Linked DNA regions of Homo sapiens. The protein of the gene in region 1 purifies or fractionates together with the protein of each later gene. This does not show direct contact. Each region holds a gene or a part of one and is shown on either strand. Other genes may lie near its edges.

Region 1 (4,000 bases):
GTGACATGGCTCTTACCAGTTTAAATGGTGTGGTTATTTTCTTTTTCTTATATGAATCTTTTGCTCAAAACATACCTACTCATTGTTTCCTGAACACATCATTTACTTTGCCACCTCTGTGATTTTGCTCACACAATTTCTCCAGTTCGTAACACCCTTAACACTCTTCTCTGATAATCAAAGACCTTGACCTTTAAGGCCAAGCCAAGTACCACCTTCAGGGTGAATATCTCCCCAAGGACCCAAGATTTCAGTGACTTAGTCTCTCACCTTCTATTATTTTTATGGTCTCTATCTACTTAGCACACATCCCATATACATTTTCTATTTAAGGATATATTCTTTCTTCCCAACTAGATTTTAAATCTCATGAAAACAGCAGTCCTATTTTATTTCCACATTTATATTCAATTCCTAATCTAATATATATATAATTATATAAAATTATATATATATTTTATATACGATATAAATTATATATTATATATAATTATATGTATAATTTTATATATAATTATATATATATATATATATATATATATATATATATATATATATCCTATCCTCTTGCCCGGGCTGGAGTGCAGTGGCATGATCATAGCTCACTGCAGCTTCGAACTCCTGGGCTCAAGCAGTCCTCCCACTTCAGCCTCTTGAGTAGCTGGGACTACAGGCATGCACCACCACTCCTGGCTAATTTTTGTATTTTTTGTGGAGACAGTCTCGCTCTGTGGCCCAGGCTGGTCTTGAATTCCTGGGCTCAAGCAATCCTCCCACCTTGGCTTCCCCAAGTGCTGGGATTACAGGAGTGAGCCACCATACCCAGCCATAACAAGTATTTAGTAGTTTCTAATGATAGTTAGATTTTTTGCTTTGATATCATCATCATAAAAGATCTGGGGCACTCTTCAAACCTAATTTAGGTTGTAATTGAATAATGAAGCAGTTAAAATATGACAGTAATATTTCCATCAAACTTAATCCTATACGTTACGTTAATGTATCTGTATATACATTTACCATAATGTACACAGTCATTAATTATACATGGTTGTTGCTGTATGTTAATGTACTATGGTTCAGTTTTCAAAGGCAAATGTTATAGTGCATTCCAGGACACCTGTGTCCACGAGATAAGTTCTTTGAAACTATATTTGGATCTGCAGGCTATTAAAAGCTTCTTGTACTGAGTGACCTTTCAGGCAGAATGTAGACTGAGCGCTCCTGCTACTGCTGCCTGTTGCTGAGAGGAAGACCGCAGAAAATTCTGGATTCAAACATTTATTGCTTTTTTTGTTTTGCTTTGTTTTTGTTTTCTTTCCTTTTGCCTTCAGAAGATGAACAATGAAACCACAACCCTGATATCCTTGAAGGAGGCAATGAAAAGGTTGCTGAGGGCTATAGGGAGGGAGCAAGCATGGGTCTGCTATTCTGGGAAGATGGGTAAGAGAAGAATGAAGAATAGAAATAAAGAACTGCAGACATGCTCATTAGAATTCTGTCTCTGTGGCCGGTGCGGTGGCTCACACCTGTAATCCCAGCACACTGGGAGGCCGAGGTGGGCGGATCACAGGGTCAAGAGATTGAGACCAGCCTGGCGAACATGGTGAAACCCTGCCTCTACTAAAAATACAAAAATTACCCAGGCATGGTGGCGGGCGCCTGTAGTCCCAGCTACTTGGGAGGCTGAGGCAGGAGAATCACTTGAACCCGGGAGGTGGAGGTTGCAGTGAGCCGAGATCGTGCCACTGCACTCCAGCCTGGCAACAGAGCAAGACTCCGTCCAAAAAAAGAATTCCGTCTCTATTACAGTGGTTTAAGTCTTCCAGGCCCAAACCTATGTAAATTAACAATAAAGAAAAGTCTGCTCCCAGGTGCTGTAACTCCATTGAATGTATGCATATGCTAAATCCTAGATTTACAAAAATAAGTAAAATGTGGTTTCTGCCCTCAAGGAGCTCACAGCCTGTAGGAAAGAGAAAAGTTTGAAAAACATTTACAATTTAATGTGACTGACCTTACAATGGTGATGTTCCTAAAGGTCTATGCGAACATGAAGGGAGGATCAACCAATTTTGCCTTTGACACTAGAAAAAGGAACTCTTCATATAGGGTCATTTAAGCTGGATCTTAAAGTGCAAGTAGGAGCTTATGAGGGAGAAAAATATGGGAAGGCATTCTAGGCTGAGGAAACAGTGCATATAAGCCATATGTAAGCTTGGAACCACATAATGTATTCAAGCAGCAACTAGATGTCTCGTGTAATTGGTAACTAGGATGGGTGAGGGGACTGGTGGAAGACAGGAGCAAAGGGTGAAGGCCCTTGACTTTCCTGCTGAGGAGATCCAGTTTGCCTCTGAGTATATCACTGGGCAAGCCAGGATGACATAAACCATTTGTAATCAGTTGAGTCACAGAATCGGAATTGTGTTTTAGAAGAATGTGTCTGGAGGATGGATGGGAAATGGAAAACGGGGGTCCAGTTAGGCTACGGTAATCTTGGGTCCTAGTGAAAGATGATGAGAAACTCATTTGATGGAGATGGAGAGGCAGGAATGGGTTAGAGAGACATAAATCAGGGGAAGAAAAAAGTTGAGAATTATTCTGAGATTTCTAGTTCAAGCAATTGATTGGATGGTGAGGTCATTAACGAAACTAGGGAACTGTACTAAAACAAAACAAAACAGCCTGCGCTGAGATTTGCATGTTGGTTGAGATTTATCTGGAACGGCCTCGGACTGTCCTTTGGTGAGAGGATTCCAAAGAACTGCTGCAACTGTAAATTTTTATACTGATTGACAAGCTAGACTTCTTCCCTAAGTTTCAAACTACAGATGACCTATAAGCAATATAGTCTTAAAGGTCTAAAAGTTAACACAAAATAGTATGCCAAATGGCTTTTTTTTTTTTTTTTTTTTTGAGACAGAGTCTCACTCTGTCACCAGGCTGGAGTGCAGTGGCGCGATTTCAGCTCACTGCAACCTCCGCCTCCCAGGTTCAAGTGATTCTCCTGCCTCAGCCTCCTGAGTAACTGGGACTACAGGTGTGCATCACCACACCCGGCTAATTTTTGTATTTTTAGTAAAGAAGGGGTTTTACCATGTTGGCCAGGATGGTCTCGATCTCTTGACCTCATGATCCACCTGCCTTGGCCTCCCAAATGGCTGGGATTACAGGCGTGAGCCACTGCACCCGGCCAACTTTCTTTTTTTTTTTTTGACACAGGGTCTTGCTGTGTTGCTCAAGCTGAGTGCAGTGGCATGATCACAGCTCACTGCAGCTTTGAACTCCTGGGCTGAAGCAATTCTCATACCTCAGCTTCCCCAGTAGCTGGGACCACAAGTGTGCACACCACCACACTAGGCTAATTTTTTATTTTTTGTAGAGATGAGGTCTCACTATGTTGCCCAAGCTGGTCTCAAACTCCTGGACTCAAGTGATCCACCCACCTTGGCCTCCCAAACTGCTGTGATTACAGTTGTGAGCCACTGCACCTAGCTCAAATCACATGGTTTTGACTTGTAGACAGAAATTACAGGCATATCAGGTCACACAGGCTTCTATTCCTACAAAATGAACATTTTATACTGAGTCTTATCTATGTGTAAAGCAGTGACAACATTTCTTCATAGTAATTTCTGAAGATGGGGGAGGTATTAGTAGGTTAAGCTTAGGAGAGTTGAGTTTGACATCTCCATCTTTGTGGAGATGCACAAAACATATTGAAAATACATCTCTAGGCCGGGTGCGGTGGCTCACGCCTGTAATCCCAGAACTTTGGGAGGCCGAGGTGGGCGGATCGCCTGAGGTCAGGAGTTCGAGACCAGCCTGGCCAACATGGTGAAACCCCATCTCTACTAAAAATACAAAAATTAGCCGGATGTGGTGGCGCCTGTAATCCCAGCTACTCGGGAGACTGAGGCAGGAGAATCACTTGAACCTGGGAGACAGAGGTTGCAGTGAGCCAGGATCGTGCCACTGTACTCCAGCCTGGCGACAG
Region 2 (3,500 bases), on another chromosome or scaffold:
CACTCCAGCTGCTCACCGGGGATGCTGGAGATGCACAGCACGTGCGCGTTGCAGACGGTGAACTGGTCCACCACCGTGCCCGGCTGGTTGGCGTCGATGATCACCACCTTGCTGGTGGTCAGGGTGCTGGTCAGGATCCACACCCGGCTGGAGGTGGCGTCCATTTCAGGGAGCTCCTTGGCCTGTTTCAGGGCACGGGATCAAGGTCAGAGCCCGAGCTTGAGGCTACCCGGTGGCAGCACAGGGCCATGGGGCTCCCAGAATCTGTCAGGATCCAGCCTTGACTACAGCTTGAGGGGACATGGCTGTCCTCCCCCAGGACCAGAACAATGCGGACTCAGGACTGCACTCTAAAGCACTCACAGACACGGTTTCGCCTCCACAGAAGAGGCCCCTGAGCTCCAAGAGGCCCAAGCTGGGCATAAAACTAAGCCTCCCACCACTGGGAGGCAAGCTCTGCCGCTCCTGGGCTCCTCTGTGCCTGCTGCCTGCCTGACCCCTGCAGCCCAGTGCAGGCCCACTCCAGGCCACCTGGGGGGTGAAAACTGAAAACCCAGAAGGCGGCTCAGTCCTGGTGAGGGAAGACACTGCTTCCCGCAGTCTAGGAGCCCCTGCGCTGCCCTGCTTCCGGGTGCTGTCCCCAGCTGTCCTGTGTCTCACTCCCAGCATGCTCTGCAGCTGAGCTGTCCTGAGACTAAGCCAGGGAGGGTGCCCGGTGGCCTCGGCCATGCTCACCTTCTTCTTCTCGGGAGACGTGTGGGCGCTCTTGGGCTCGCCGTCTCCTTCGCGGTCGCAGGTCAGGGGATCGCGGCCTGGCGCTGGCTTGACTCCATTCCCAGCGTCGTCCTCATTGGGCCTCCACCCGCTCAGGTTGACGCCCGCGGCACACCACAGCTGCAAGGGCAGGGCCGAGGTCGGGTGTCACCGGCACTCCCCAGCCTCCCGCTCGCCCAGCCAGCCTGAGCGGGGTCCTCGCGGGCTCACCTTCATGGTGGGGTCCTTCTCCACCAGAGGGCGGCAGTACACCGGCACCGGCACGTTCTTCATCCGCGTGTCCTCCTGGCCCCCGTTGGGACTCAGCTGCAGGGAGCAGGGAGGCGCCGTGGGCACGAACCCTGGCTCCTACCCATCCCTCCAGAAATCTGAGACAGGTAGGGCTGCCAGCTTCTGGCGGCACAGCCACTTCAAGACTGGAGGCAGGTGGGGGCGTGGGAGCCGCGGGGCTCCTTCTCCGACCCTCCAGACCCCTGCCCAGGAGGCTCACTAGGAACCTGCCAGGCCCCGCCCCACCCGCCGTCCTCTCCCACCCCCTAGCACTGCCCCGCCCTCTCCCCGCCCCACAGCGCCCCGCCCCTTACCCCCGCCCCGCCTCTGCGGGGCCCCGCCCGGTCCCCGCAGCGCCCGCCCGCACCTGCTTGTACTTGGCGGGCAGGCTCCAGCCGCAGGCCTGCAGACGGCCGTCGTCGTTACGCACGTGCTCACGCACCTGGCGGTACTGCTCGCGCTTCTGCTCTCGACGGGCGGAGGACGTGCAGTCGCTGAGTGGAAGAATGATGGGTGATGTCTCTGTCCAGGGTGAGCGGCCCCCACAGTGCCCCAGGCTTGTCCTGGGGGAGGTCACGGCAGGGAGGCCCGCCTGGGCCCATCCTCGCCTTTTCCCGGCCACCGGGTGCCCAGCTGGGAAGGGTGGCTTTCCCGGCACTGGGTGCCCAGCTGGGAAGGGTGGCTTTCCTGGCACCGGCTATGCCCCTGGGCTTGGAGGCCACAGCTGGCCCCTGCTCGACCCAGAGGCTGCTCTGCTGCCACAGTCACTGAGGGTTCCACAGACCGGGACCTGGAGTGCCGCCGGGGCACAGGCATGACCAGCGACTCCCTGCTGGACAGACGCCTGAAACGGCTCCTTGCTGCAGAGGCCACCGTGGAGCCCAGCACAGCCCCCTGACTGTTGGTGGGCACAGCCTCTGCCAAGGGACATCCTGAACCAAATACCGTGGAGCCAAAGCAGCCCAGCTCCCCGCTGCAGGGAGGGGCAGGCAGTGTGCAGGGAGAGGTCACGGCCCCTGGCATGTGGCCAGCAAGGTGGAGGCTGCCCTCAAAGTCCCGCTTCAGGGCCTGGAGGGGAGGAGCCTCAGGACAGGGCCTCCCCAACCCCATTGCAGGCCACAAGTGGGGGCTGCGGGACACTCACTCGTCAGGGAAGAATTCCAGGGGCCGGCTGCCTGCCGAGATCGGGCACATGGCATGGTTGCGGCGCTGGCTGAAGCCGGCAGTGGTGGGTGACTTGTAGTGGATGTTCACCGAGGGATAGGGGCGCTTGGCCGGAGGGGGGCTGGAGGAAGAGCTGAAGAGGCGGCTGAAGCTGCCAGAGGCACAGGGAGGTGAGGGGTGGGCAGAGGACCAGGGAACCTCCCTGCCCCTTCCCCTGCAGCTGCTGCCCACATCCCCCAGGGGCCCCCAGCTTACAACTGCCAGATGGTCGACTTCTTCTTCTCCTGGACGGATGGGTGCTCTCGGGACGCTCTGCAGGGGAGGGCACAGGGAGCAACCTGCTAGTGCCCTCACGCCTCCCTTACCTGCGACTCTCTGGCTCCCGCCAGGAAGCACCCAGCGCACTTCAGTCCCCCCAGAAGACAGGGAGGTGCAGAGGAGGGAGCCGCAGTCCTGCCGTCAGGGATGATCCCGCAGCCCCTCCTGGGGTGGCCGCAACTCCCACCTGATCATCTCAGTCCACCGCACAGCCTCCTGCAGCTCCATCAGCCGCTCCTTGTACTGGTTCCGCTCCATGAGCACACGGGCCATCTCCACCCGCGTGAAGCGGCGGCGCTGGGCCATGGGGATTTTGTCCTGCGGAGGGAGGGGCACAGAGGCTCAGCCAGCCCTCGGAGGCCGGGTGACACCTGCTTCCTCCTGGGGTGCCTACACGTATAGGTGGATCTCAGTGCCAATTTCCTTCAGATCCTCAGGCAAGAAGCGGTGTGGAGGGGTGTCGGCAAGCGGGGAGGGGAACCATACAAAAGGCATGCACCAGGACTTGGGTGCTGACAGGGGACCCGGCATCCTGCCAGGGCTGTGGTCCTGCCCAAGGGCCTGATTCTGACTCCATGTGGTCTCAGGAGTGGGGTGGCAGATGATGCCGCTGGGGTCAGGTGTCACCCAGGAGGGGTGGGAGAGCTGTCAGCCCAGAACAGCCGGCGAGTCCCCAGGAGCCCGCCTGGGCCCCCTGCCCGTGCCCACCCCAGCCCTGCATGTGAATTGTGGGATATACTGATTCTGTACAGAGACAGAAGCGCCGGTGAGTCCCCGGGAGGCACCCCGCATCCCCATGCCCCGAGTGTGAATAGTAGGATATACTGTGTGTGAATGGTGAATGGTGAATGGTGGCCGCCCAGCGTGTGAATGTGTGGGAATGATGGCTGCCCCACGTGTGAATGCGTATGAACAGTGGTCACCCGGCGTGTGAATGTGTGGGAACAGTGGCCGCCCCGCCTGGGAATGGTGAA

Evidence for each region. The genes of interacting proteins can lie anywhere in the genome.
Region 2: the proteins of SMCO1 (region 1) and MAPK8IP3 purify together in Homo sapiens (affinity purification with mass spectrometry; 2 studies listed by BioGRID and IntAct, with this or other methods). This does not show direct contact.

The regions. Positions count from the first base shown.
Region 1 is NC_000003.12:196,512,547-196,516,546, reverse strand, and holds the start of SMCO1 (single-pass membrane and coiled-coil domain-containing protein 1), read left to right. Parts: upstream 1-1,200; 5' UTR 1,201-1,337; coding exon 1,338-1,387; exon of another isoform or gene 1,388-1,417; coding exon of another isoform or gene 1,418-1,443; intron 1,444-4,000.
Region 2 is NC_000016.10:1,761,695-1,765,194, reverse strand, and holds part of MAPK8IP3 (C-Jun-amino-terminal kinase-interacting protein 3), read right to left. Parts: intron 2,845-3,500; coding exon 2,714-2,844; intron 2,521-2,713; coding exon 2,464-2,520; intron 2,360-2,463; coding exon 2,189-2,359; intron 1,539-2,188; coding exon 1,412-1,538; intron 1,081-1,411; coding exon 985-1,080; intron 895-984; coding exon 736-894; intron 183-735; coding exon 17-182; intron 1-16.